Linked DNA regions of Homo sapiens: region 1 is linked to region 2. Evidence: fine-mapped expression QTL. A gene starts in region 2. The other region holds a variant in brackets. All regions are shown on one strand. Distances are from middle to middle.

Region 1 (15,659 bases), 30 kb after region 2:
GTGCTTTCAGAAGCAATTCATTTAGCACTGAGCGACATCTGAGCTCATTCCTGACTGTGTTGAGGGGTGGGCAATCTCACTGGGGAAAAACAAACAGCCCGAATCAGGCTTTGTTCTTAATGATATTCCTAAGTGCTGACGACACCCCTGCTGGGTCCAGCCTCAGGGGACACAGTGGGGAACTGATTGACAGCCATTAAGAAAATGGAATTGAACACCTCAGATCAGACATCAAGGCAGAATCTTTATCAAGCTAGCATCAGACTCTGCGAGCTCTCCAGCTAGGAGGAAGGCTTGCCTCTAGGACCTTTGCTGTTTGCGATTATAGACAGTCCCCAGTGCTATTTAACATTCTAGAATTCGAATTGTAAAAAGACATCATTGTGTACTGCTTGCCATTCACTGGCCATGTGGATGAGTGAGTTAACCAAGTTAACCTCCATGGCCCTCAGTGTTCTCATACATAGCATGGTGGTGAAAATTGTACCTACGTCATGGAGTTGGTGGAAAAACGAGACGAGCATCCAGCCATGCACTTATAACAGTGCCCAGCATACAGCCAGTGTTCAATGGAGATTCGTTATTATGATGGCTATTTATGTTTCACATGGGAATGTTTGCATAAAAGGAGTCTTTGCCTACAGCCAAAAATCTTAAGCTAAAGCTGAGAGATGTGCTCCATATGGCCTCACAAGTCCTAAGTGCCATTTCTGGGTACTGGTCATGGGCCTGTTCTGAATTATTTTGCAAAATGGGATCCAAACCAAGAATCTTTACTGTGATAGTGGTCATTTATCATTTTGGCATTTGTCAAGCATCCATTTCCCTTCAAAATAGTATCCCAGGCTGGGCATGTTGGCTTATGCCTGTCATCCCAGCATTTTTGGAAGCTGAGGCAGGAGGATTACTTGAGCCATGGAGTTCAAGACCAAACTGGGCAACATAGTGAGATCTCGTCTCTACAAAAAAAAAAAAAAAAAAAAAAAAAATGGCTTGGTGTATTAGTCTGTTTTCACACTGCTATGAAGACATACTACCTGAGACTGGGTAATTTATAAAGGAAAAGAGGTTTAATTGACTCACAGTTTCACATGACTGGGGAGGCCTAAGGAAACTTACAATCATGGTGGAGGGGGAAGCAAAAAAATCCTTCCTCACAAGGTGGCAGGAGAAAGAAGAGTGAGGAGGAAGGGGGAAGAGCCCCTTATAAAACCATCAGATCTCATGAGAACTCACTCACTGTCATGGGGGAAACCATCCCCATAATCCAATCACTCCCCTCCCTCCATATATAGGGATGTATAGGGATGACAGGTCCCTCCCTCAACACGTGTGGACTGCAATTAGAGAGGAGATTTGGGTGGGGACACAGAGCCAAACCATATCACCTGATGTGGTGGTGAACACCTATGGTCCCAACTGCACTAGAGGCTGAGGCAGGAGGATTGCTTGAGCCCAGGAAGGCAAGACTGCAGTGAGTGGGGTTTGTGCTATTACACTCCAGCCTGGGCAACAGAGCAAGACCCTGTCTCAAAGAAAAAAGAACAGCATCCCAATTTCCTTTTGGGAAATAAAGCCTCCCTCATTTTCTGCAGTTGGTAACTCCTAGCACCTCTCCCTGGATAAGCCCAGCTCCTCTCTCCCTGTCCTAGTATAGACAGGGGCAGCCCACAGAGTGCTTTTTGCTGTGAGCTGCCCCACATCAACAATATTCTTCTAATCTTTTCCTTTGGTTATAAGTCGGTGAGAGTCCATTTCTGTTGCTTGCAACCAAAAACCCCACTGATAAAATTCTTATTCCTTCCCTTCCTTTCTCCCCTGCTCCTCACTCCAGGCTTTCCTCCAAATGCCACCAGAATACAGAACAGACCACATGGTCAGAGGAATTGCACTTCTATAGAGTTTGAAGTGAGAAAGCAGCACATGCTCCATAAACAGGCTGAAATCGAGGTCCCTTCAGCTGCAACTGAAATGTTACAAGAGAGACAGATCCCACGGTGGAAACCAGGCTTTGTAATGACAGAGCCCCGGATTCAAAATCCTGCTGTATGACCTTGTGCAATTACTTAGTTTCTCTGATCATCAGTTTCCTCATAAGTGTACACACACACACATACACACATACAAACATTTTTTTTTTTTTGAGATGGAGTCTCGCTCTTTTGCCAGGCTAGAATGCAATGGCGCAATCTCGGCTCACTGCAACCTGCATCTCCCAGGCTCAAGCGATTCTCCTGCGTCAGCCTCCTGAGTAGCTGGGACTACAGGTGCGCTACACCACGCCCAGCTGATTTTTGTATTTTTAGTAGAGACGGGGTTTCACCTTGTTGCCAAGGATGGTCTCGATCTCTTGACCTTGTGATCCGTCTGCCTCGGCCTCCCAAAGTGCTGGGATTACAGGCATGAGCCACCACTCCCGGCCCACATTTTTAAAATAAAAGATATGTTTTAAGTAATTGGCTTACATGATTGAGGGGGCCAGTAAATCTGAAATCTTTTACTTGAAGTCAACTGACTTGTAGATGGTAACCATGTCTACAAAATGCTTTCACAGCAACACCTAGATTCATGTTTGATTACATAACTAGGTACTATAGCCTAACAGAGTTGACTAAGAAAACTAACCGTCACAGAGATCATAACACTACTTTGTATCCTTGAGTATTAAACAAGCTAAATGCTTATAAAGTACTTAGCACAGTGCCTGCCATTTATAGGAACGCAATAGGCAGTAGACTCTTTTCTAACAAGCGTTTGTTAGAAAGGCATTTTCTGTTAGCAGAGGCAGGAAAGGATAATATAATAGCATTCATGCAATGTGCTGGAAACCAGGCTCTATCCTAAGCACTTTATAAATATTAACTGATATTTACTGATTTTATTTAATCCCCCAACTACCCTAAGAGTTAGGTAATCTTATTTAGATGAGGAAATAGTGATCCAGAGAGGTTAAGTAAATTGCCGAAGGTCACACAGCCAGCCTGTGGTATGCCAGTAGGCAAGTAACTGCCTCTCTGAATCAGGCTGCCCATGAGTGGTCTCTGCAGCATGTATTACCCAAGAGAATGTCTTCCCAAGTGTCAACTCCAGTTAAAACCTTGAGATAAAGTGTGCCCTGCCCTATCACTTTAAGGAAAACTCCACCCAATCCCACAAACATGGCCAGATTTAGTTGCCAGTATATTTTTGAAAAATATTTTAGGGTAGAATATCACACCCCCACCACACTCCCCCCTCTACTCCACCATCTCCCCATGATAAGAAAAAGCCAACACCTTTCCATCTAAGAAAACTTGGCGGAGGTCCCTCCCCACACACAAAGAATGGCTGCTTCTACGCACTTCTATCAGGAGCGTCGTACAACTAACGAACTTTCCAAACAAAGAAACAGCAAGTCAGAAATAAAATCATGTGCTAATTGTGGTTTTCCTGGAATGGATGACTATATAATATTCTAATCAAAAAGCTGGAATCACATTTGCGTTTAGACAAGGCTTGTTAGAAAAATACATGAGAATAAAAGGAGGCCGTAAGACCACGGGTGCTTCTCCCAAGGCCAGTCATTACTGCTCAGGGCAGGCAGCCAGCAAGTGGGAAGTTGCCCAATTTTGGTCAAGTCCAGAACTCCAGGGATGCCCCCTTGTGTCCACTAGCTCTCTTAGGGGCCCCCAAATCCTACTTACACTACGGCCACCTAACAGCATTCAGGCAGCTCCCATATCAGTTTGCAGTTAGCGGGAATCCTCTCCCACAGCAGGTGTTCTTTTTTCCTTTTCAAAACCATGCTGGAAATTTAATATTCAGTAAAATAGAGTGCCATGATAATGTTTAAAATCCGGCCAGGTGCAGTGGCTCATGCCTATAATCCTAGCACTTTGGGAGGCCAAGGCAGGCTGATCACTTGAGTCCAGGAGTTTGAGACCAGCCTGGACAACATGGCAAAACCTCATCTCTACAAAAAATGCAAAAATTAGGCAGGGCACGGTGGCTCACGCCTGTAATCCCAGCACTTTGGGAGGCTGAGGCAGGTGGATCACCTGAGCTCAGGAGTTGAGACCAGCTTGGCCAACATAATGAAACCCTGTCTCTACTAAAAATACAAAAATTAGCCAGGCACAGTGGCGGGCGCCTGGCTAATCCCAGCTACTCAGGAGGCTGAGGCAGGAGAATCGCTTGAACCTGGGAGGTGGAGGTTGCAGTGACCCAAGATCACGCCACTGCACTCCATCCTGTACAACAGCAAAACTCTGTCTCAAAAAAAATAAAATAAAAAGAATACAAAAATTAGCCGGGCATGGTGGCACTTGCCTGTAGTCCCAGCTACTGGGAAGGCTGAGGTGGGAGGATTGCTTGAGCTCAGGAGGTCGAGGCTGTAGTGAGCCATGATTGCACCACTGTACTCCAGCCTGGGCAACAACAGAGTGAGACCCCGTCTTGAAAAGTGAAAAAAAAATTAAAAAATAAAAAATTAATAAAATAAAATTAAGAGTCAAGGAATTTCTAACTGTGACTGCTTTTATTTGGGTGGAAAATAATTCCAATGTAACAGGTATGGGATCATAAACATATAGGAAGACACCCCCAGGTGTGACTTCCTCTTGTAATAAGGAACATCTCAAACAGGCCATGGGCCATGCATGCTAGGGTAAAACTGTGATGTACACAAATCTAAACTTGCTAGAGCTTGATGTTTTCCTTCCATCTTTCCTTGCTCCTTCTTGATATCAAATTTTTTCTATCCTCCCCAGAAACGGGGCCCCCGGGTCTAGAGATTGGGATCTTCTGGTTGGGCAATGGCTCCTCTACAAGGCAATTTCAAAAGTCATTCTCTATTCTGTACCAAGTGGTGGAGATTAACATTTCAGACAGGCATGATCCCAGATCCTGAGGATTAATTTGGTAGTGTTTGAGTGATATCTACCGGTTACGCCCTGGGGTTTGGCTGTCTCCCTTGTCTTTATCTGTCAATGTCAGTGTCAAATTAGGGAGAGAAAGAAAATAGGACAAGCCAAGGGCAGCCTTTCTGGGAGTTATGCCAGGCTGGCAAGATGAGGCAGACAGGGCAATGTGCTAGCAGGTCACGACTGGGTCAGATGATAGAGAAATGGGGTGTCTGCAGGGACACACATGGGACTTTGGGTTCAGAGGACTGAGCTAAGGTCAGAAGTTGGGGAGGTGAATTGGAGTCTGTGTTCAGAAATCCATACTGGGTATGATGGTGTGGTCTGAGCATGACAGACAGGCCAGTCACAGAGAGGAACAGAATCAAAATGCAACTCCCAGGCCTGAAGATGGGAAAAAAAATGCAGCGTATGAATAATCGTCACACACATTTCATTCATTGGTTCTTATCCCTGTCAACTCCTTCAGAGCCACAAGGCCCCTGCAGATACTCCTGCCCCACCTTCCAGTCACTTCCAGGCATCCAGAGGGATTCTAAAGGGATGGCCTCACAAATGGCTGCTGTGGCCCCGACGAACACATGCTTCGGCACTGATTGCCTCTCCATGCACCACCTGCCTCCCATGCACCCAGGCAAGGTGCCGTGTGCCCAGATGGCTGCAGTACCCTCTGCCATGCTCACCACCTCTCCCAGGCCTTCCCACTGCAGGCCATGTCTATATCTCTCTGCCTGTGGGCTTTCTGTGGTGACGGGACCCCACCCCCTCTTCACACAGCAGGATGCAGGAGAATTCACAGCCCCTCTAGCTGCCCCAGCAGCAGCCCCCAGCCAATGACTGAAGGAGTTGCTGTAAATACCCCACCTTCCTCATCCCTAGGACAAGGTCAATTGAAGGAACATTTCTACATGGGCCTTCAAGGTTCCCCAGGAAAACTAAGCTACAGTTGACCACAGTGGTAACTTGCTTGATAATGCATGTCTTAATGGCTGCTTTTCCTTCCCTGTCCCACTTTCCTATGTCTTTACTGGTGTTTCCCAATAAATTACTTGCACTTGAATGTTTGACTTTGGCTGTGACAGTCTAAAACATTTCCAGCCTATCTCTCTGACCTCCTACTGTTGATTCTTCACACGGCAGCCTGAGTGGTCTTTGTAAATTATTTATTTATTTATTTATTTATTTATTTATTTATATGAAAATAGAGTAGAGACAGGCTCTCACTATATTGCCCAGGCTGGTCTTGAACTCCTGAGCTCAAGCAATCTTCCTGCCTTGGCCTCCCAAAGTGCTGGAATTACAGGCATGAGTCTCCATGCCCGGCCCTGAGTGTCCTTTGATAATATCAATCAGGGCAGATCACGTCCTTGCTCAAAACTTTCCAAGAATAAAAATGCAAAACACTTCCTATGGACTGTGAGGTTCTGTGCAACCTCTGTGATCTGGCCCCTGCTCTACCTCTCCCTTCACTCCCTCTGCTCCAGCCACAACGGCCATCTCGCTGTCCTTCAAACGCTCTGAGTTCTCTCCTGCCTTCAGTCTCGTGTGCCTGCTTTTCCCCTTCCTGGAGAACTCTGCACTTAGACCTCTGAGGGGCTCACTCCTTGTCAATGTTATTCAAGTGTCAGCTCAAAAATCACCTCCTCCAAGAAGCCTTTTCTGACTACCCAATCTCAGATAGCCCTGTTCTCAACCCCCTGCCCAGTTAGTCTTCAACACTGATGACTACCTAAAGCTCTCTTGGGTATGTATTTGTTGACGTGTTAATTTTATGCCTCTTGTTCTCACCCTGGTGCCTAGAACATTGCCCAACACATAGTAGGCACTTGATAAATATTTGTGGAATGAAGAATGATCCAAGCAAGAGAAGAAGAGAAATTAAGACAATGGCAATAGCAATGGAGAAGAAGAGATCAATTGGGAAAATATATAGGGGAGGGAAGCAGTGATATCAGATGACCTATTAGATATAGAAGGTAAGGGAATGGAGGCTGACACCAAGCTTGAGAGCCTGCAGGGATAGGGATGCCATTCACCACAACAGTGAGTGCAGGAAAGGGCCAGGCCTGGAGGGAAAGATGGTGAGTTCATGTGGACATGATGCATGTGAGAAGTCCATGAAATGTCCAAATGGAGATGTCCAGCAAAGGGTTAAAAATATAGGTCTGGAGCATCAGAGAAAGGAGGAAACTAAAGATTTGAATCTGGAAGGGGTCAGCAATGTGCAATTGAGCCTGTGGAATAGAATGACATCACTGGAGGAAAACATTAGAGAAAAGTTTGCAAACTAAGTTGCTTTCAGGGACCAAGAAAATAATTCAGATGAGTGAAGTAGCTCAAATCAGAACTATAAAGAGTGGTGGTTAGTGCAGTGAGAATTCAAAATAATATCTGCCTTCTTGAAAGACTTTCATAGTAAACGTTATTTAAACACTATGGGGGCCAAGCAAAACAGGTCT[G/T]GTGTAGGCCACTAATGTGAGGCCTTTAATGTAGAATGAGAAGTTTCCCTGTGCTACTAGACCCTGAGAACACCAACATTTAATAGGCAGGCATAGAATAAAGAGTTTCCAAATGAGACTGATGAGGAGCAAGAAGAGAGGTGGGGTAAACCCAACAAGAGTCATGGTGCAGAAGTCAAAGAAGTCAGCATTATCAAATGCTGCCGATGGGTCCAATGGAGTGGAATCCAAAAGGATCCCTGGATTTAGCCAGAGGGAGTTCATTAATGGCAAGAGCAGGAGCAATGTCAACAGGAAGGGAGTGGAAGACAGAAGCCAGGCACAATTTGATGAGAAATCCATGGAAAATGAGGATGTGGCAACAGTAAGAGGATAGGCCATTCTTTCAAGAAGTTCGTCAGTGAAGGAGAGGACGGGGACCCAGTAATTTCATCCTGGATATGCAACAGAAATGAGTACTTGTGTGCAAAAAAATGTAGAAAAAATGTTGATAGTAGCTTTATTTATTTATTTATTTATTTATTTATTTATTTATTTATTTATTGAGACAGAGTCTTGCTCTGTCACCCAGGCTGGAGGGCAATGGCACGATCTCGGCTCACTGCAACTTCCACCTCCCGGGTTCAAGTGATTCTCCTGCCTCAGCCTCCTGAGTAGCTGGGATTACAGGCACCCGCCACCACGCATGGCTAATTTTTTTGTATTTTTAGTAGAGATGGGATTTCACCATGTTGGCCAGACTGGTTTTGAACTCCTGACCTAAAGCGACCCGCACACCTCAGCCTCTCAAAGTGCTAGGATTACAGGTATGAGCCACTGTGCCCGGACAGCTTTATTTATTTATTTATTTATTTATTTATTTATTTATTTATTCATTTATATTTTTGAGGCAGGTCTCACTCTGTCACCCAGGCTGGAGTGCAGTGGCATAATCTCGGCTCACTGCAACCTCCATCTCCAGGGTTCAAGTGATTCTCCTGCCTTAGCCTCTTGAGTGAGGTTGGGACTACAGGTGTGCACCACCACACCCAGCTAATTTTTGTACACAACGAACTCAGCTAGGAAGCTGGAAATACTCTGTATCTTGGATTTGGGTGGTGGTTCCAGGGGTATATACCTATGTAGAAATTCTTTAAGCTGTACACTTAAGATTTGTATAAACATAAGATGTGTGTATGGCTGGGCACGGTGGCTCATGCCTGTAATCCCAGCACTTTGCGAGGCTAAGGCGGGTGGATCACCTGAGGTCAGGAGTTTGAGACCAGCCTGGCCAACATGGAGAAACCCCGTCTCTACTAAAAATACAAAAATTAGCTGGGCATGGTGGCACTTGCCTGTAATCCCAGCTACTCGGGAGGCTGAGGCAGGAGAATCACTTGAACTCTAGAGGCAGAGGTTGCAGTGAGCCAAGGTTGCACCATTGCAATTCAGCCTGGGCAACAAGAGTGAAACTCCGTCTCAGAGAGAAAAAAAAGATGTGTGTATATAATACTTCAATTAAAAGGTGAGAAAATAGGCCAGGCACAGTGGCTCACGCCTGTAATTCCAGCATTCTGGGAGGCCGAGGCAGGTGGATCACTTGAGGTCAGGCGTTTTTTTAATTGTTTTTGTTTTTCTTTTTGTTTTTTTGAGACGGAGTTTCGCTCTTCTTGCCCAGGCTGGAGTGTAATGGCGCGATCTCGGCTCACCGCAACCTCCGCCTCCCGGGTTCAAGCGATTCTCCTGCCTCAGCCTCCTGAGTAGCTAGGATTACAGGCATGTGCCACCACCCCAGCTAATTTTGTATTTTTAGTAGAGACGGGGTTTCTCCATGTTGGTCAGGCTGGTCTTGAACTCCCGACCTCAGGTGATCCGCCCGCCTCGGCTTCCCAAACTGCTGGGATTACAGGCGTGAGCCACCGAACCCGGCCGAGGTCAGGCGTTTGAGACTAGCCTGGCCAACATGGCAAAACCCCATCTCTACTAAAAATACAGAAAATTAGCCGGGCATGGTGGTGGGCGCCTGTAATCTCAACTACTTAGGAGACTGAGGCAGGAGAATTGCTTCAACCCAGGAGGCGGAGGTTGCAGTAAGCTGAGATCATGCCGCTGTACTCCAGCCTGCGTGACAGAGAGAAACTCCGTCTCAAAAAAAAAAAAAAAAAAAAAAAAAAAAAAAAACCACTGAGAAAATAAAGGAGAGAAAGAAGACATTTGGCTGAGGAGGAGACTGGGATTTTCTTTTAGAACCAGCTCAGTTCCTGCTTTAGGTCTAATGTTAGAGCTGCTGTGGACATTTTGGCACAGAAGAAAAAGTTGAAACAAAAAAAGACTATCACAAATTATGTATGAATTACAAGGGAAAAATGGTAACTTTATTTATTTATTTTTTGAGACAGTCTTGCTCTGTCGCCCAGGCTGGAATGCAGTGCCATGATCATGGTTCACTGCAGCCTTGAACTCCTAGGCTCAAGAGATCCTCCCACCTCAGACTCCTCAGTAGCTAGGACTAAAGGTGCACACCACCATGTCCAGCCAATTTTAAATTTTTCTGTAGAGACGAAGTCTCACTTTGTTGCTCAGACTGGTCTTGAACTCCTGGACTCAAGTGATCCTCCCACTTCAGCCTCCCAAAGTGCTGAGATTACAGGCATGAACCACTGTGCCCAGCCCAAAACAGTAACTTTATAGTAGAGAAAAAGCAAGAAACCAAAGCTAATCTCACCAATACTAGAGCAAACTGACATCCTGTGTCCACTGATAGGATGTACTGGGAAGGACACAGTATCATTTCAGTGGTATTTCTGTCAAAAATACAGAACCTGAATTTTATCATGAGAAAATAATAGACAAGTCCAAATTTAGGTACATTATACCATATAACTGGTCTTAATCTTCAAAATGTCAAGATAAAAAAAACACAAAGAGGGCCAGGTGCAGTGGCTCACGCCTGTAATCCCAGCACTTTGGGAGGCTGAGGCGGGCGGATCTTGAGGTCAGGAGTTCGAGACTAGCCTGGCCAACATGGTGAAACCCTGTCTCTACTAAAGATACAAAAAATTAGCTGGGCGTGGTGGCAGGCACCTGTAATCCCAGCTACTTAGGAGGCTGAGGCAGGAGAATCACCTGAACCCAGGAGGCAGAGGTTGCAATGAGCTGAGATTGCACCATTGCACTCCAGCCTGGGCAACAGGGTGAGGCTCTGTCTAAAAAAAGAAACAAAGAAAGGCTGAGAAACTGTTCCAGATTAAAGAAAATTAAAGAAACCTGATAATTTAAAACAGTATGTATTCCTGAAGTGGTTTTTGGACCCAGAAAACATCTGTAATGGGCATTATTGTGATAATTGAAAAAATAATTAAATATGAACTATACATTAGGTAATAGTCTAGTATCAAGTGTAAAATTTTTTTGATTTTGATAACTACTATGGTTATATGGTTGTCCTTAGGAAACATACACTGAAGTATTTGGGAATAAGGGGGCATGATGGCTTCAACTTGCTTTTTTTTTTAAGAGATGGGGTCTCACTATGTGTCCCAGCCTGGGCTCAAACTCCTGGGCTTAAGTGAGACTCCTCCCTCAGCCTCCCGAGTAGTTGGAACTACAGGCATCAACTAACTTTTTAATGGCTTAGAAAAAATGCAGAGAGAGCAAGTGAGTGAAAAAGAGAAAACAAATGGGACAAAATGTGAACAATTGGTGAATTTGAGAGCAGGTTATATGGGAATGCCTGGTACTATTCTTGCAACTTTTCTATAAGTCAGAAATTATATCAAAACAAAAAAGTATCAAAAATAAACAATACTCCCCAGACATGGTGGTTCATGCCTATAATTCCAGCACTTTGGGAGGCCAAAGTGAGAGGATCAGTTGAGCCCAGGAGTTCGAGACCAGCCCTGGGCACGTGAGACCCCTTCTCTACAAAAAATTTAAAAATTAGCCAAGCATGGTGGCACTCATCTGTAGTCCCAGCAACTCCAGAGGCTGAGGCAGGAGGATCGCTTGAGCCCAGGAGCTCCAAGCTGCCATGAGCCCTAATAGTGTCACTGCACTCCAGCCGGGGCAAAAGAGTAAGACCCTGTCTCAAAACAAACAAACAAATCAAAGCATGACAATTTAATAAACAAAAACAACATTGTGTCTCTATAAAGTTTTTTAAAATTTTTAAAATAAGATGTGGTACCTTTGATATAAAAGGGAAGGGCCCAGGCCAGTCTTGTGAAAGCATAAAGAAAAAACACCCTTTCTCCCAGGGCCACATGCCTTTCCCAGCTTGAATCAGGGAATGAGAGAGGCACCTGGGTCCCAGCATTCCTGGACAAACAAACAGAACACACCAGACAGCTAAAGGACCGCAGCCCTGGCTTTGGGGATTTCTTGGTTATGGCATTTCAGAATTTTTGCCAGTAATAATTGTCCAAACACACACACACACACACACACACACACACACACACAAGAACCTTGCCACAAGGGACTAGCTTGAGACTAAGCTATTTTCACCTTGGAATGATAATATATCAATCAGTGCGGTCAAGGTCACAAGCTTTGGAGTTTGTTTTTTTCTGGGTTCAAACTCCAACTTTACCACTTGAGAGAAGGATGTCCTTGGGCAAGTCCACTTGATCTCAGTGGATTTCACCTTACTCATCCTTAACACAAGGCTTTAGTAGTACCTATCTCACAGAGCCATTGTGAGAAATAAATGAAATAATGAATGCCAGGTACTCGGCACTATCTCTGCCTCACAGAAGGCACTCAATAAGTGCAAACAAATATGTAAAAAACAGTAAAATGATTCTAGGAGTTAGATGTGTTTCAAAAGCTGGTTAAGGGGCTGAGGACTTTCCTAGGAATAACTTGTGCTCACCGAATATTTACTCCATGCCTGTCACATGGAATATTTGATCTCATTTAATTTTCAAAACCACCCAATGAGTCAAGTATTATTTGTATTTTACAGACAAGAAAATAAGATCTAGAATGGGTAAGCTGTTTGCTGAAAGTCCCCCAGCAAATAAGAGTTGGATTATTCCAGAGCAAGCTTGTCCAACCCACAGCCCACAGGCCACATGCAGCCAGGAGGGCTTTGAATGCAGCCCAACACAAATTCATAAACTTTCTTAAAACATTATGAGGTTTTTTGTGATTTTTTTTTTTTTTTTAGCTCATAAGTCACTGTTAGTGGTAGTATATTTTATGTTTGGCCCAAGGCAATTCTTCTTCTTCCAATGTGGACCAGGGAAGCCAAAATATTGAACACCTTTGTATAAGGCAACCCAGTTTGGTGCCAAGACAAAGAGGTTGAGGGATGATATGAGCACCATCAAATGTCTGTCTTCAAGACTGTCCTTCAACTGGTAACCTAGAAGGTCCCAAGTCTAAATGGGGATCAAGTGAGTTGGGCCAAGTGGGCTGCAATGGCTTTTGAAGGAAGCCAACCAAAGCTATTGCCTAAGATATCCCAGCCTGGGTTCCAGAAGCTTAGACCGCAACCAGTGATGACTCCAAAATGGGGCTGGCTGCTACTGGAAGCAGTACCCTTGGCACAGATAGAAAAGTTGTCAGCAATGGGCACTGGCCACCTTAGCATGGATGCTGGCGGGTACCAGCAGCCATGCGTCTTCTGCTGATATCAGCAGGAAGCACCTGGTGACAAGCTGAAGTCTTAGAGCAGGAATTTGGAGATGGAGGGCTTGAGGGTACGGATAAGAGGACCAGACTAGGGGACACCTATCAACACCACTGCCAAGGACTCTCATCACAAAGGGGGAAGTGGAAGCAAAGCAAGAAGAGAACTACTGCTTGGTAAGAGAACTGCTTTTTTTTTTTTTTTTTTTTTTTTGTCACCCAGGCTGGAGTGCAGCTGCAGGATCTGCGCTAACTGCAACCTCTGCCTCCTGGGTTGAAGCGATTCTTCTGCCTCAGCCTCCTGAGTAGCTGGGACTACAAGCAGGCGCCACTACGCCTGGCTAATTTTTGTATTTTTAGTAGAGACAGGGTTTCACCATATTGGCCAGGATGGTTTCAAACTCCTGACCTCATGATCTGCCCACCTAGGCCTCCCAAAGTGCTGGGATTACAGGCGTGAGCCACCGCGCCTGGTGAGGACTCCATTTTCTACCCCTAGGCTAAAGAGCCTGGAGGATTATAGCTTACAGAGCAGAGAAGAACTCTGATACTCATACCTGCATAGTGCTAGCTAGTCAGTAGACAATACTTAGATAATTCATTTTCTGATTTCTGACATTAGTGAGAGGTTGGGGTTTTGTTTGTTTAATAACAGCCTTCATTTAGATCTTTGCAAACAGCCTTGAATGAGGAATGTCCTTATGTTTCAGGGAACATATCAGGCCTGGAAGCAGCTTTTTTAGGATAAAGCTCACTCATTGAACTTCAAATGCACTGACTCCAACCATTTCCTAAAATAAGGAAAATCTGTCTGCACAGACGGCATTTTCACTCTCCTGAATGTTTTCTGTTGGTTGGTTGGTTGGTTGGTTTTATTGGTTGGTTGGTTTTGATACAGAGTGATACAATATCATGAAGAATATTAGTCAGAAATGGGGCACAGGTCTCAAGCAGGTCTTGGGACCTTGGGCTATTAATCTTTCTGGGCCTTAATTTACTTATCTATAACATAAAAGGACCTTAATATATGATTGAGAAGGCCCAAACCACCTTTAAAATTTAGATCTGTGTCTCCCCATCAGACCTCTCTGGAGACACAGGATCTTATTCAACCTCACACAGATTCTTGGGTTTCTGCCATTCACATCTACATTGAAAATTCTCCCATAAACTTTATACAAGTCCTTATGGAATCATTAAAGCTTTGCAAGAAAACAACAGTACCCATTATAAAAGCCCAAGAAACAGAGAAGAAAATCATGTTTTATAACCCAAGAAATCTGTCCAAATCCTAGAATTTTTCTTCAGAGTACATCACAAGAAGGAACAGTCTCTTCCTTCCTAGTGGGAAAGTCAGGGTTTCTTTCATTTCCACCTTGTTCGCTTGTAACCGCTCTCACCAGGCAAAGTTCTGAGCAAGTGAGATGGACTCATCTCGGAACTCCAGGCTGTGTTTACATAATTGGTAAAAGAAACATTCCAATCCCATTCCTTCGTCAGCTCCGACAGACCAACCAGCATCCCCCTCCCACTTGCCACTTTGATAGGGGTGACTGGTATCTCCATCTCCTTATCTTTGTTGATCATGTTTCTGGGTTTCCAATTGCGTCAATTTAACTGGTTGCCAATAATTCTGTCATCTGAGGGGAAAGCAGAATCTCAACTGAACATGCAGATGTCCTATTGAGACTTTGCCCATAAGGGAGCGTCTTTGGTGCTTAAAATTCCATCTTTTGGACCTCATATCAGTTGATGTTTTTAGTTGCATCGGAAACCAACTCTAAGTGATTTAAGCAGGAGAGAAAGTTATTTAAGGATATTTATAGTTCACAGAATCTCTGGAGGAGCGGGGGGCTAGAAAACCAGACTTGAAGACTACACAGAGAGACTCCGAGTCCCCCTGGGACTGACCTGAGATGACCAGGGAGCTGGTATTTTTAGCTTCCAGAGGTAAATAACAGCCTTCACTTCCATCAAAACTCATTAGGTAGAAAACACACCAAACATGGGAAAGGCGTTCCGGAGCTGGGCTACCAAAGAGAATAATAAATGTTCACTATAGTTTCATCTTCTAGTTTTGTACCATCCCTGAAACATTTTCTTTTTCCTCCAGGAGCCTCAAAATTACAGTTAAGTCTACAGTCAGACAGAAGGAAACTGGCATTTATTAAACACCAACTTTGTGCCTGGAAGATTCACTTACAATATCATAATCTTTACAATAACTCTGCAATATGGATCTCATTATCAGCATTCTTTTTTTGTTTGTTTGGTTGGTTGGTTTTGGTGGTTTTAGTGTCAGGGTCTCACTCTGTTGCTCAGGCTGGAGCATGGTGGCATGATCATAACTCACTGCAGCCTTGAACTCCTGGAATCAAATGATCCTCCCACCTCACCTCCAAGTAGCTGGGACTACAGGCATGCACCATCATGCCCAGCTAATTTTCTTTTTCTTTTTTTTTAAGAGGTAGGATCTTGCTATAATGCCCAGGTTGGTCTCAAACTCCTGGTATCAAGTGATCCTCCCATCTTGGCCTCCCAAAGTGCGGGAATTACAGGTGTGAACCACTGCACCCAACCTCATTCTCAGCATTCTTATTATGTTTTGTCTTATTATCCTCCAAGGATAGGTTAAGTAATTGTTATGGGTTGAATTGGGTCTCCCCAAAATTCCTATGTTAAAGTC
Region 2 (15,659 bases):
ACTGATGGACAGATCCTCACAAATTCTTCCACAATGCAATCTGATGACTCCAGCTGTAAGGCAGAGTCGGACAGGACAGGGCTTCTCAAGTTCCTCCTGCTATCAATCATGACCATGCCAGTCCGACTCACCACCCAGAAATCAGAGGGGAACCCGTTCAAGGGTGGCCAAGACCATCAGGAGCAACCACAGGAGACATACCACCAAAGTCCCAAACCTGATGGGTAGACTCCACTGGCAGGCTTCCCCAAACTATATAAAGTAGTAATCAAATATTGTAAAATGCTAGTCGCGGAACAGATGGTTACCATCTGCAGTCCTCAAAATTAACATTTGGAAAGAGCACAACTTTGTTTCATTACTTAAAAACTCAAGCAATACTTAGTAACCAACCCAGCAAGTATGGGCGGCAGATTATTTTCAGCTCAATTATAATACTTAGTCATTCTCAGTAATAACTAGTAGAGAATACATGTGTGGGTCCACTTAGAAGAGCTAAACTAAAAATGTTTTAATTTAATTTAAAGCGTAGGTTTGCTATTATTTAAGGGGCAATGAACCTCACAGCATCATTGCTAAAACTGCAGTCAATGCCTCTGGGCCTGGCAACACTTGCCTCCCTTGCCCTGCCCTTTGGACTTGATCTTGGCCTCTGCATCCTGGCTCCCTGCCTCTGTGATGGCTCCTCCATCTTCCCAGGCAACCAAACCAAAATCATCACAGTCAACCCAGGTTCCTCCTTCTCCTCAATCCCCATGCCACTGGTTTCTTTCTTTTCTTTTCTTTTTTTATTTTTTTTTTTTTGAGACAGAGTTTCGCTCTTGTTGCCCAGGCTGGAGTGCAATGGCGCAATCTCGACCGCAACCTCCGCCTCCTGGGTTTAAGCAATTCTCCTGCCTCAGCCTCCTGAGTAGCTGGGATTACAGGTGCATGCCACCACACCCAGCTAATTTTCGTATTTTTAGTAGAGATGGGGTTTCTCCCTGTTGGTCAGGCTGGTCTCAAACTCCCGACCTCAGGTGATCCACCCACCTTGGCCTCCCAAAGTGCTAGGATTACAGGCGTGAGCCACCACACCCGGCCCCATGCCACTGGTTTCTAATTCCTATCAAATTCCACCTCTGAATGCCCCTCATATTTTTCCCTTCCTCTCTACTCCACTGCATACCCTTGGTTCAGACTCTCTCTGAGACAACTGCAACAGCCCCTAGCTGGTCTCCCTGTCTTCCAGTCCATTTTCTGCCATCCTTCTCTGCCCAACAGCCAGAGTGAATCTTTCTAAAACATAAATCTCAAAGTGTCCTGTCCTTCCTAAAACCCCTAATATCCACCCCTGCCCCCATCATTCATGGCAACTTTTCCCAAAATGTAGAACAAATACCTGAAATTACTTTAAGTAGTATACAGCCAGTATTTTTTATTGTAATGATTTTATATTTATTTTCATGTGTAATGAGGGGGGAAAAACACGTTTTCATAGGTATTAATGGCCTAAAGCAGTTTTTTCAAATGCTCATAAAACTGATTTTTTATGTATCAAATTGAAATGTGGACCCGGCAAAAATCATGAGGGTCCTGAAGTGTGGAAAGCACTGGTCTACAGAATAAAATCCAGGCTCCTGTCCATGGCCTGCAAGGCCCCTCTCGATCTGGCCCCTACCTACCCCTCATCTGCACCTCTCACCACCCACAGCCTAGTCCAGGCAAACTGAGCCCTGTATGGCACACTCCACAACAGCCCATGCTGTGTTTGCCTGTTATGGTCTCAGCACTGGGGCAGAATGTCTGGCATGGAGTAGATGTACTTACTCATTGGGGTTCTCCAGAGAAACAGAACCTATAGGAGGGAGGGTGTGTGTGTGTGTGTGTGTGTGTGTGTGTGTGTGTGTGTGTGTGTCAGAGAGAGACAGAGGTTTATTACCATGAACTGGCTCATGCAATTATGGAGATTGGCAAGTCCAAAATCTGCAGAGCCAATGTCCCAGTTCAAGCACAAAGGCTGGAAGCTGCTGTAGAACCAGGAAGAGCTGATGTCCCAGTTTGAAAGCCACAGGCAAGAGAATTCTCTTACTCAGGGGAGGCTTAGACTTTTCGTTTAAGGCCTTCAATGGATTGGAAAAGGCTCACCCATATTATAGAGGGCTGTGTGCTTTACTCCATCGAACAATTTAAATGTTAATCTCACCCGCATTGAAACACCCAGAATAATGTTTGACCAAATACCTGGGCCTCCTGTGGCCCAGCCAAGTTGACACATAAAATTAACTATCCTGGTAGACATTCAATTTCTATTTTGAACGAATCCTCCTACTTCTGCCTACAGTGCTCCTCTCTGCTTCCTGAATACCTCCTGCCTCTTCCACACTCAGCTCTGTGGTCTGGCATCTCCTCCTCAGTGCCACCATGCTCAGTGGGAGGCCTGTGGTTACCTTGAAACAGCCTTCATCACCCCTCATTACTCTAGGTCAGGCCTCTAGTTCAGGCTCTTGCTGGGGTTGCTGGAAGGGTATCCACCTGCCCTCAGGCCCCACCAGCCATTCTCCATATGGTGGTCACAGTGATTTACCAACTTCCTGAATGAAAATCTTCACTGGATGTGAAACGATAGTGTGAATTATGAATTTTCTTGGGTTATAAGACCGATGTGGTTATGTGGGAGAATCACTTTACTCTCAGGAGACGCAGGCAGAAGGATTTAGAGGTGACATGTCATCAGGTCTGCAGCCTCCTTTCAAATAGTTCAGCAAAAGACAGCACAGAGAGAAGAGTGAGGAAGATGAAGAAATGCAGCAGAATGTTCAGATCACGTTTAGATGGTAGGCATTAAGGGTGAACACCATGCTGTTATTTTAACTTCCATATATTTGGAAAATTTTCCTAATAAAAAATCGCTTTAAAAACACACCTGGCAGGAAGTCACCCAGCTTTTCTCCCTACATGTGCTCCAAGTGGCAGGAAACTCACAAGTCCCCCATTTTCGCTCTGCTCAAGCTATTGGAAAGTCCCTCCAGTTCTGAGTTAAAATTCCCCGCTGTAAAGTTCTACTCACTCCACAAAGAGCTCTACTCTTTGGGACAAAATCTTCCCTCACCTCCTCCCAAGCCCAGCTTTTCATTATTCACAGTCAACTATCCCAGCCCCTCCCTAGTCCCTTTTCCAATGTAAGCAGCGGGGAGGTGCTGTCGCCTCTCAAAGTGTCTCTGTCCCACTTGCCCTCCTCTCAACACACGTACCTTTATTTTTGATACCACTCTTAAACCTGCTGTCCCATGGGAAAACAACAGTTTGGCCATGCTCTGACCAACTCCACAGGCAGTGGCCCTGTCACCTCCTTTGACCTGGGAATTCAAGGAATGCAGCTCAGACTGCTTCTCTGCTGGGGCCCTCACGTGGCCCTGGCATTTGGCTCAAAGGCATTTTTCCATGTGCTGCTCTTTTTTTCTTTTTTCTTTTTTTTTTTTTGAGACGGCATTTCGCTCTCGTTCCCCAGGCTGTAGTGCAATGGCGCAATCTTGGCTCACTGCAACCTCTGCCTCCCGGGTTCAAGCAATTCTCCTGCCTCAGCCTCCCCAGTAGCTGGGATTACATGTCCATGCCACGATGCCCGGCTAATTTTTCTATTTTTAGTAGAGACGGAGTTTCGCCATGTCGGCCAGTCTCAAACTCCTGACCTCAGGTGATCCACCTGCCTTGGCCTCCCAAAGTGCTGTGATTATAGGTGTGAGCCACTGCACCCGGCTCCATGAGCTGTTCTTAAGTCTCTTTCCCCATCTTTTATTTTATGAGGTCATTCCAGAGTCACAATCTGCCACCATCCTTAGGGGGGTCTGTTATATCAACTCAATTCAACAAAATAAGAGCACAGAAACAGTCACACCCCAGGTAAACACAGGGTAAAGACAAAGAGAAAGACAGTAACCCTATATACTGTAAGCATCAGTCAACTACGCCATGCCATTCAGAGCATCTAGCACCTGTACAACTCTGGACCCAGCCCTAGGACCACAGAGATGAACAGTCTGGTGTACCTAGCTCTCTGACCCAGAGCCTTCTGCAAAGCCGATGGCTCCCATCCAGGGAATGAGTAGGACATGCCAAGTTTGAGAGCTTTTCATGTTACCTCATTTAATCCTCACAACAATATTTTAAGGGAGGTATCATTAGTCCCATTTTATAGATGAGGAAACTGAGGCCCTGAGAGGTTAAGTAATTTGCCAAGAGCAACAAGGCTAGTATAGAGCAAGGCCCGGAATAGAACCTAGGTCTATTTGATTCCAAAGACTATGCCCTTATCTGCTTCGTGAATCTACCTGCTATGTCTGAGCCACTCATAAAAATACTGACCAGATCAGGGCTAAGGACCCCACAAAGAACTCTGGCAGGGTTCATGCATGACCAGGTTCAAGCACTTATAAAGGCACTTGACTGCACTATTATCCAGTACTCCTCAATCTTCTCTACAAAACCTTGCTCCATGCCTTTCTGAAACCCAAGGACATCGTCTGCAGCTTCCCCCTGCATATAGATGGAAAAAAAAAATCAAAAGAAAGAAAGAGTCACCAGGCTGACATCAATTACACAGATAAAGGAAAGGAGCAACTAAAGAAATGCTTAACAACAAAGCTCTTACCAAATCCAAAGGAGAATATGACAGAATTTTTAAAAAGAGAAAATAAAGCTACAAAGGGAATTTCCTGGAAGCCAAGTGTTATCACTGGCACAGATGTTGAGAAGCAGGCCCACAGTCCCATTTAACCCCACTGTCCTTTTCCCTAATCTATGTCCCGATATAGGCACCTAAAAATAAGTGGGAAAAAGTCATATATTAAAAAAAGACGAAAGAATGGAACTGCAGAAAATAACCAGAAATTATGCCCTATTGAGCACTGATACACGCTAAATTAAGCCTGCACAGGCCATTTTTTAAATATGCAATTACTCTTCTTGAAGGGAAAAGTTGAAAAATAGGAATGGAGTGGTTTTGCTTCCCACCCCCACCCACTCCAGGGCTCCATCTTGCACATCTGTGTTCTCCCAAGCTAGCAATGGGGCAGCAATCCCTGCCTCCCCCAGTCCCTCTCCTACATAGCCAAGGCTCTAAAGTCCCCTCACCCCCTCCCTGCCCCCTTCATCCCTGTTGGCATTACCTTGGTTCCCAGCTTTGTACCCATACCTGGCTGGGACTATCCGAATACCTCCTGATCTGTCTCCCTCCTTCCAGCCCAATCCACATGGTGCCACCCAAGAACACTTCCTAAAAAGCACACCCTGTCACTCCCCTTCCTCAGAACCTCTGTAGAGAGTTCTCTACCCATGGCCTTCTGAGATCTGTTTCAATCCCTCTCATCAGTCTCCCCTCCTGCTGTCCTTCCCACACTTCCTGCATTTTAGCCACAGACTGAACTTGGAGGACTCTGGGATCAGACAGTCTGGGTTCAAATCCTGGTTCTATCACCTGCTAGTTCTAGGACCCTGGACGAGTTTCTTAACTTCTATCTCGAAGTCTGTTCCCCATCTGTCAATGCGGTCCCTAATAAATAGTATTTCCTACATAGGACTGTTGTAAGGATGAAATAACGCTCCTAGACTACTAAGCATGATGCCTGGCACACACTACATGTTTCCTACTAACTGTTATTGTTAATACCATCTCTGAAACATGCTGTGCTTTCCCCTACCTTGACTTCTTCACCTGCCTCAAGAATTCCCCTTCATCCTTAGAGATCCAGTTCCCTGTCACCTCCTTCAGGCTTTCATCCCATGCTGTTCACACCCCTATTACAGTCATCACACTGCTCTGTAATCACTTATTGTGATTATAATCGATGTGACAGAACTTAGAGCAGGTTTTGGAGACAAAGAACCCTAGTTTAAAAGCCTACCTCTGCTATCTACTAGCTGTGTAATCCTGGCCAACCTGGTTGACTTCTCTGGACTTCTGCTTCCCCCACTGTAAACTGGAGAAAAGAATAACCCACCTCACAGGGGTTTTGTAAAGACCAACCTAGCTAACTTATGGAAAGTGCCTAGCACAGGGGCTGGCACATCTTAAGTGCTTGAACATCTTTTTTTTTTTTTTTTTGTCCTGAGACAGGGTCTCACTCTGTCACCCAGGCTGGAGTACAGTAGCATGATCAGGGATCACTGCAGTCACAACTGCCCGGGCTCAAACGATTCTACCTCAGCCTCTCAAGTGGCCGGGATCACAGGCACACGCCACCACGTCTGGCTAATTTTTTTAATTATTTATAGAAACGAAGTCTTACTATGTTGCCCAGGCTGGTCTCAAAATTCTAGGCTCAAGTGATCCTCTTTCCTCAGCCTCCTACGGTGCTGAGATTATGGGCATGAGCCACTGCGCCCAGCGTTGAACATCTTACCCTTTCCTACTTTATTTGGCTTTCTGTTCCTTGCTGACTGTAAGCTTCTGAAGAACAAGAAACTATACTGTATTAGTTCAACACCTGTGAAATGAAGGGAAATTAGTAAGAAAAATATATATACGGTTATTAGTCACTCCTCCACAGTTTATAGTACCTGAACCATAACAGAAGTTCCATAGATGTCAATTGATTCCCAAGTTACCAGAGGAAACTAAAGCCAGCAGGAAACTGTCCTGAAGTCAAGAACCTATGGCAGGTGAACCCAGAAAACATTACGCTAAGTGAACAAACCCAGTCACAAGGGGCTACTTAATGTATGATTCCATTTATACGAAACATCCAGAATAGGCAAAAGTACAGAGACAGAAGTACATTGGTGGTTGCCTAGGGCTGGGAGAATGGGAGTAGATGGGAGGGGGGAGTGACAGCTAAAGGAGGTGTTTCTTTTGGGGGGTAATGTTCTAAAACATTATGGTGACAGCTGCACAACTCTGCAAACACACTAAAAGACACTGAATTGTGCACTTTAGATGGGTGAACTGTATGCTTCGTGAATTATATCTCAATAAAACTTTTTAAAACAATAACCACAAAAAGGATCAATCCTAGGAGCGAAAGGGTTTTGGCCACGGAGCAACTTGCTCTTACGCAGAAGCATAAATCATCACGACAAGGTTGCTCCGGCCACCGGGTGCCGCGGGCAGAGGGACGGTGGAGGGGACATTCTCCTTTTAAAAGTGGCCAGGCCCGTGAGCCTCTGAGAGGCTGGCCTCCGGGCTGCCCCGGACCTCGCGCCCCTAGCTCGCGCTGCAGGCCTTTCCTGCTCCTCCGAGGCCGCCCGGCCAGGCCTGCGTCAAGCCCGGGCGCCGCGCTCCGGTGCACTCAGCTCTCCGGTGGAAGAGCGCAGACCGCAAGGGAAAAGGTGCCGGCGCGGGTCGCCCCTAGGTCTTCAATAGATCCGAGGACACCCGAGGCCTCCACATCCCTAGCCCGCCCCCGCCACCCAGTGGCTCCGGCCGCCGCTGCCCCCGCGCCCCCGCCCTCGGCCTCGGCCTGCGCAGCGCGGCTCACCAGCCTCCAGGGGAACGCCAGCCCCGGACGCCGCCGCGGCGACGAGTGCGCCTGCGCCCCGGGGACTGAGCGGCACCGCCCCTGCCCGGCGACGGTGAGCCCAGCGCCCTCTGCCGGCCGCGCGCGGGACTCGGGGTCCTACTGGGTGCCTCTTCCTAGATCCGACCCCACCCAGTTGAAAGCTGTCCCCACTAACAGCCTTCGTTACCTGTTACCTCAAACACCCACTCTGCCTTCTGGCTGTTGCTACGCCGGATATAAGCCCTAAAGGCACTCTCTCCTCCTTATTCCTGAATATGGATTGTGCTATGAATATGGGGTGTTCAAGATCTCTGAAAGGCTTGCTGGAGGACTTTTCCTGAACCTCTCGTGTTGATGACAAGAATTGTGTTTGGATAGGAATCTGCGTTTTGAATCATTTCACCAAATTACAGTCCCATAACACCTGTCAAAAGAATAAATATGACAGTAATAAGCATGCTTCCTTTCAGACCCATCTATAATTATAATTGAGGAAAATAATACAAAATTTAAACTTAGAGCTACTGCCAGTATCATTCTTTGAAAATGAAATAATGCTGTTTATTAAATAGGCTCTCCCTGCTCTCTAATGTTTAAAGCTCAAGTGCTTCTCTGAATTGATTTAAATACAAGTTTTATATCCTGAAAGAAATCAAGATGAGTCATTATCTTAAGACAAACCCCCCTGTTCAATGATGCTGCTGATCTCTCAGCTGATGTCTAAGCGGGAGTTAGGTTGTTAGTGGATAATATTGCTTCTGTTCACGTCTCTCTTCTCCAGGGCTTTTTAAACCTGTTTGTAACGAAAAGGCTGATTTCCTTCAGACTCCATGTGTCGTTGATTTAACAGGACAACTTCTTACAGGTTTTTCTTTTTCCTTTTTCTTTTTTTTTTTTTAAGTAAAACATTGCTCCCCGGTGGCACCTGGGAATCTGTTTTTCTTCTCTTAGGATAAGAGAAGCAGGGATATTTCTTAACGGAAGTTTTGTTTTGTTCCTAACTCCCTTTAGAGCTTCCTCTTTTCTTTTTTTTTCTCTTCACCTAACATACTAGACTTCCCTCAAATCGGGGGTGGGGGATGGGAAGGTGGGGTTCCCTCCCTTGAAATATTCAGATAATTGCTTCCATTTATTTTAAAGATGTAGACTTGGACAAATATATCTGAAAGATACAATTGTACCCTCATAAATCAGCCCTCTTATTTACACATGCATAATCAAGGGCACGTCATTAATGCAGAGCCAATCAATAAATCATTAAGCTTTTAAAGCCCTTATTAAGAACAATCTGCAGTAACATCATCCACTCCTGTGCTCAGTCTTAGGATCATTTAATAATTTTAAGAAATTTCACAGTCTGTTCTGTAGTCTCATCTCCCTTTTGTTCCTAGATAGCTGTATTCCTGCATCAGAAACATGGTTCTAATACCTAGATCTCATAAAATATTGAAGATGCAAGCTGTTTGCTTTACCTCTGAAAGGCTCCACCTTCAGAATCACTTGTGCCTCTTCCAATTTTACAAACGCACAAGATTTTAACTTTCACAACAATTTCTTATAAACATCCAAATACTAAGAAAAAAAAATCCAAAGTAGGAGAGATTTGAACAATAATCTCTAATTTTTTTTCCAAGTCACAATGGAAACCTAGATTTGAAAATAATTGAATTTGAACCTTTCAACTTGACAGCAACCTTAGGTTCTTACAGCTTCAATAGTAAAATGAAATAATTTTTACTAGTCCAAACATTCACTTAAAATGACACCAGTCTCATAATCTGATAAAACCCCAACCATTTTTACCATGTCATTTTCCTATACACTGAAATTTTAGCAGATGAACCCCCTTATGTCAGACAGTGCATGATATTTACAGATAAACAAAATAGAAAGACCTTTTACTTGAGAAATTAGTCACCCACTGTCCAGGGGACATGTTCGCACAGGGGAGTTTATTGACTTTCCTAAGAAATACACCACATTCTCTTGATTTCTGACATTATGTCATTTAGCCTGACAACTGCAGATTTGTAACCAGTATTTGTAGGGAAAGATACAAGAAGTCCTGACGTTTCCAGTTTAAACCTGTTTTTAGATTTCAAAGAGAAATGATAACGTTTGCATCCTCTGATTAAATCAGGTTATTGTCTCCAAGGGTGACCATGTAAATAATTCAAATTAATTCATCAGTGTACAATAGGTTTAATAAGCATAATAAACACTTTTAAGAAAATACTTAAGACCCTCGGTCTGCCCTCGATCTTGCTCCCTATTATCTCAGATTTCCCTGAGAACAGAATGAGTGGTACCACGTTGTTCTCTTCTATTCAAAATATGCAAAGCTGCTATTTACCAGCTTGCAATTTGCATGTCTCAAATCCTGCCAGAACACAGGGTGAGGGCCATGGGGTGATGGGTGAATATGCCAGAAGAGGACACCAGGGGCGAAAATGGAAAATGGGGTGAACAGATTTTCCTTACCCCAGCGTATTGCAAAACACAACTCTTGCTGACTACTCAAGATTTAAGACAATAAAAATATTGGGTATGAAAGGTTATGTGAAATCTCAGACATCTAGTTTGTTTTTCTTTAATTGCTGGGCAAAAGAAAGGGATGAGCAAGGATTTCAATATTTTTATAAAAGGGAACACAAGAGGAAAAAGGGTACAATTGTGACTATTTACAACATACACTTGGAGATTAATTTATGGGCTGGGTTTCAGCCTTCCTGGTCCTCCATACTATGTTACTTTCTGCAGCACCATAAATCCAACTTTGCTGACTGGTATATGTCATTCTCTGTTTCTAGTGTGTTCTGTAGTAATTTATTAACAGTGACCACATGTGAAACCACATTGGTGATCAGATGTATGTTATCTCTGAATATGTCCCCACTTTTTTTATCTCTTGAAAATATGTTCTATGTCTCATGATTTCAAATTGTAAATAACATACACACATACACATAATGTTTTGTATGAATCACCTTTGGAATGGAATTTCTTTTTCATAAAAATTTCAAGTGCATGCTGGATGTGTATGTGGCAATATTACCAAAGGAGTGAATGCGCTTGGGAACATTCTTCTTTTTTGCATTTTGACAGCATTTGACTAAAGATCCACTTAAAATTACCTTGCTCACAAAGTGTAATTCTGTTTCCACTGACTATATCTGCAGTGTCTTGAGATGTCCAGAGACAAGAATTACATGCCACCATTAATAGGAATGGAGACGGTAAGAAATAATCAACTTTATTAAATAGGATTATTTGAAGAAAGAGGAGAGACAAAGGGGTGAAGAGGAGAAGGAGAGAAAGAAGAAAGTGAAAAGGAGGGAAGTGGAGAATAAGTAAAAGTAGAAGGGAGTTATCCTGTTGATGCTGTCCCCAAGAGAAAGGGATGATAGAGTTTTAAGTGTAGCAGCCCAGAAAAAAAAAAAAAGGCAACGTTAATGAAGGGAAATCATTTATCGGCTTGGCCAGGAAATTGGGTGTTCTGGTCAGTCAACTACATGGTTAATAGTTACCTTCCACTTCAGCAAACATCTGTTGAGACTCCTTCATGTGCAAAACTCCATGCAAGACCCTGGGTCATAGCGGAGGCCTCTGAACTCTATCCCTGCCATGCGGGCTCTCCTGTCCTTCTCCACTATGGTTAGAGACAGGTATAGTCTTGTCGCTGTCCTGCTGTAGTCCCCTTAATGACTTCTCCGTGTTCTCTGAATACATACGCCAAACTCCTTACCATGTCCTATGAGGCCCTCCAGGGTCTGGCCTCTTAAGCTTCCATCCATGTCCCCGTCCTCTGTAGCAGCCACAGTGGCCTTTCAGACACTCATTGTATCGTGTCCTTCTGCCCTGCTCCTCCTTTAGATCCCAGCTAATAGATCTCTTCCTCGCCTTCCCTGACATCCACATTCCCACCCCATAATGGAGCAGGTCCCCCCACCCAAAGAGTAGACTGTACTTTTCTCCATGGCATGCATCACAATTTATAGTTACATATACCCCAATTTGGACTCCCCCCAGAGAGGCCCCCAAAGCAAGGATTTGAGAACAACTAGTTCATTTGAAAGGTGGTTCTAGAAAACACTAAGTGAGAAAATAGGGAAGTGAGGCTGGGTACAGTGGCTCACACCTGTAATCCCAGCACTTTGGGAGGCCAAAGTGGGTGGATCTCCTGAGATCAGGAGTTCAAGACCAGCCTGGTCAACATGATGAGAGCCCCATCTCTCCTAAAAATACAAAAATTAACTAGCCAGGCATGGTGGTGATAGCTTGTAATCCCAGCTACTCAGGAGGCTGAGTCAGGAGAATCGTTTGAACCCAGGAGGCGGAGGTTGTAGTGAGTGCGCCCTTACACTCCAGCCTGAGCGACAAGAGTGAAACTCCATCATAAAAAAAAAAAAGAAAGAAAAGAAAAGAAAGAAAGGAAGGAAGGAAGCGGGGAAGTGAGGCAAGGAAAAGAAGGCAGCCTGTGAAGAGAGCCTTCCCAAGCAAGTTACCACCAGGGACCACTGAGCTTCGTCCTGCTGGGGAAACAGTGTGGAACCCACACCTTGGTTATCCCACCCTGGGGTATTTATACACCAATTCCTGTTTGTTACAGGTCACACAGTGCTCTCGGGGGCACTAACTCCCTGGTACTTCTAGCCTGCCATGATCTCAGGCAAAGAGATACAGATGCTGGCAGTTGGAAATCAGCCGGGTATACTGCAGTGGTAAGGCGAAAGGGTGGGGCACTGACAGTTGTGGTAGTTACATATACATGGACATTTACACATAATACATACATATATATGTGTGGGTACATGTAGATAGATATGCATTTGTGTTATTATATCAGTCATATCTCTCTCTGCACTAGAGCCCCATGAGTGAGAGCTGGGACTGAGTAGCAGTATCCCACCCAGTGCCTAGGCCTCACTTCCTGTGGTCCACCATTAAAATCACTCTCTTACCAACACCCTCAACTCCCTGGTTCCTCTTGGCCTCTGTCACACTCACTCTGGATGAATCTACCATCCTCCTTCTCCAACCTGCACCCAAGCAGATTAATGCTGAGAAAATTACACAACAGAGCTGATGGGTTTTACTTTAAATTTATGATCCAATCCTCAAAGGCATAATGGATGTTGCCTGGGAAGAAAATAACTCTGTTTCTCAGAACTCCTACACCCCACCTCCACCCTCAGTCTCAGCAGAGGACCTCACTGAAAGATAGACATCATCAGATCTTCTTCTCACTCCTTCCCCTTCTTTCCTGATATGCTGTGGAAAGTTTCCTTCTGCCTTTGAAAAACCGGTCCTTGGCTGGGCGCGGTGGCTCATGCCTGTAATCCCAGGACTTTGGGAGGCCAAGGCAGGCAGATAACCTCAGGTCAGGAGTTTGAGACCTGCCTGACCAACATGGAGAAACCCCATCTCTACTAAAAATACAAAATTAGCCGAGCATGGTGGCGCATGCCTTTAATCCCAGCTACTGGGCAGGCTGAGGCAGGAGAATCGCTTGAACCCAGGAGGCGGAGGTTGCAGTGGGTGGAGGTTGAGGTGGGCAGAGGGTGCGGTGAGCTGAGATCACGCCATTGCACTCCAGCCTGGGCAACAAGAACAAAACTCCATCTCAAAAAAAAAAGAAAAAGAAAAAAAAACGGTCCTTCTGCTGGTTCCCTGGATTCAATCCCTGTGTGTTCCTCAAATCTTTGCTCCTAGAGTTATCCCCTCTCTCCTGCTTCATTAATCACCCCCTTTCCACCTGTTCATTCTAAGCAACATACCAATGTGATCGAGGGACTTGCTACTCAAAATGGGATTCATGGATCAGCAGCCTGGGCCTCACCTGGGAGCTTGTTAGAAATGCAGAATCTCCCACCTGGGCCTGCAGAATCAAAATCTGCATTTAGCAAGATCCCAAGATGGTTCCCAGGCACATCAAAGTCAGACAAGCAATGGGCTAGGGGTTCCCATTAAAACAAATTAACAGAAAGCACACATATCCACATCCCACACCCATATGAGATTGCTCCATATCCCCTACCAGATAGATTTCTATTTCTCTACTCTCCCTTATAGCCAAGATTTTATCCTTTCATTCAAAAAACGAACACCTACCAGGTACCAAGCAGTTTTCTAGGTTCTGGGGAGACAGAATAAATAAAACCCATTTGATCAGTGTGCATGTGTGGTGTCTTAGGAGCAGAGAAAACAAAGAAAGAAAGAAGACATGATCAGGTCATAAGTGAGTGCTTTGCAGAGAAATAAAATGTGGTCATGTGGTCTTCACCAGATGGCTACTGTAGATCACTCCAAAGAGGTGACATTTAAACTGAGATCTAAGTGACAAGAAGCCGTCATTAGAGTTGTCTACAAGGGAAGCCTTAATTTCTCACTTACCATTCCCCCATTTACCCGTCAGCCAATACAGTTGGTTTCCATCTCGTGCCACTGAAACTGCTTAACAAGGTTTTCAATGACTTCCATGTTGTCACAAGTAATAGCTCATTTTCTGTCCCTTAAAATGTTGTAAAGTGAGTTAGTCACCTGATTAACCTCTTCCTTGCCATACATTGTTCAATGTTAAAATTAAAGGCTTTTCTGGCTGGGCAAGGTGGTTCATGACTGTAATCCCGGCACATTGCGGGGCTGAGACAGAAGGATCACTTCAGCCCAGGAGTTCAAGACCAGCCTGGGCAACCAAGTGGGACTCTTGTCTCTACAAAAAATTAAAATATTTAGCTGGGCGTGGTGGCATATGTCTGTGGTCCCAGTTACTCAGCAGTCTGAGGTGGGAGGATCACTCGAACCTAGGAAGTCAAGGCTGCAGTGAGCTGTGATTGCACCACTGCACTCCAACCTGGGTGACAGAGGAAGACCCTGCCTCAATTTAAAACAAAAAAAGAAAAAGAGACTGGGCACAGTAGCTCACTCCTGTAATCCTAGCACCTTGAGAGGCCAAGGCTGGCAGATCACGAGATCAGGAGTTCGAGACCAGCCTGGCCAACATGGTGAAACCCCGTCTCTACTAAAAATACAAAAATTAGCTGGGCTTGGTGGTGCACACCTGCAATCCCAGCTACTCAGGAGGCTGAGGCAGGCGAATCACTTGAACCCAGGAAGCGGAGGTTGCAGTGAGCCAAGATCGCACCATTGCACTCCAGCCTGGGTGACAGAGCAAGACTCTGTCTCAAGGAAAAAAAAAAGAAAGAAAAAAAAAGACTTTTCTGGATAAGGGAAGAGGTGGCAGGAAAGATGAAAGGGAAGGAGATAAATTAGATAAATTTTACTCAAGCATAAATATATCATTTCAAATTCAGTAAAAAATACATTTTATTTGATTTTTTTTTTATACTTTAAGTTTTAGGGTACATGTGCACATTGTGCAGGTTAGTTACATATGTATACATGTGCCATGCTGGTGCGCTGCACCCACTAACTCGTCATCTAGCATTAGGTATATCTCCCATTGCTATCCCTCCCCCCTCCCCCTAACCCACAACAGTCCCCAGAGTGTGATATTCCCCTTCCTGTGTCCATGTGATCTCATTGTTCAATTCCCACCTATGAGTGAGTATATGCGGTGTCTGGTTTTTTGTTCTTGCGATAGTTTACTGAGAATGATGATTTCCAATTTCACCCATGTCCCTACAAAGGACATGAACTCATCATTTTTTATGGCTGCATAGCATTCCATGGTGTATATGTGCCACATTTTCTTAATCCAGTCTATCATTGTTGGACATTTGGGTTGGTTCCAAGTCTTTGCTGTCGTGAATAATGCCGCAATAAACATACGTGTGCATGTGTCTTTATAGCAGCATGATTTATAGTCCTTTGGGTATATACCCAGTAATGGTATGGCTGGGTCAAATGGTATTTCCAGTTCTAGATCCCTGAGGAATCGCCACACTGACTTCCACAATGGTTGAACTAGCTTACAGTCCCACCAACAGTGTAAAAGTGTTCCTATTTCTCCACATCCTCTCCAGCACCTGTTGTTTCCTGACTTTTTAATGATTGCCATTCTAACTGGTGTGAGATGGTATCTCATTGTGGTTTTGATTTGCATTTCTCTGATGGCCAGTGATGATGAGCATTTTTTCATGTGTTTTTTGGCTGCATAAATGTCTTCTTTTGAGAAGTGTCTGTTCATGTCCTTTGCCCACTTTTTGATGGGGTTGTTTGTTT

Direction of the effects. Positions count from the first base shown, and alleles are read on the strand shown. Sizes are in standard deviations (SD) of each study's normalised expression.
With allele T in place of G in region 1, the expression in testis of the gene that starts at base 7,503 in region 2 is higher (moderate effect, 0.55 SD a copy in GTEx).

What was found. PIP is the estimated chance that this variant, and not a neighbour inherited with it, causes the effect. A credible set is the group of variants that fine-mapping cannot tell apart.
Region 1: its variant is the best candidate, but not a certain one, in a credible set for the expression of LYRM9 in testis (GTEx, PIP 0.81).

What each region holds. Positions count from the first base shown.
Region 1 is chr17:27,915,723-27,931,381 of GRCh38, forward strand. LINC01992 (long intergenic non-protein coding RNA 1992) reads right to left here. Exons shown (of 5, transcript NR_146896.1): 4 at 14,885-15,003; 5 at 13,202-14,753. Among named protein-coding and RNA genes, the nearest start is that of LYRM9, 30 kb to the left of the region's middle. RefSeq lists an enhancer at 1-614. The variant G/T (reference allele first, on the strand shown) is at 7,361.
Region 2 is chr17:27,885,863-27,901,521 of GRCh38, forward strand. It overlaps LYRM9 (LYR motif containing 9), which reads right to left and starts at 7,503. Exons shown (of 4, transcript NM_001076680.3): 1 at 7,455-7,503. RefSeq lists enhancers at 2,221-3,172, 3,173-4,124 and a silencer at 7,135-7,684.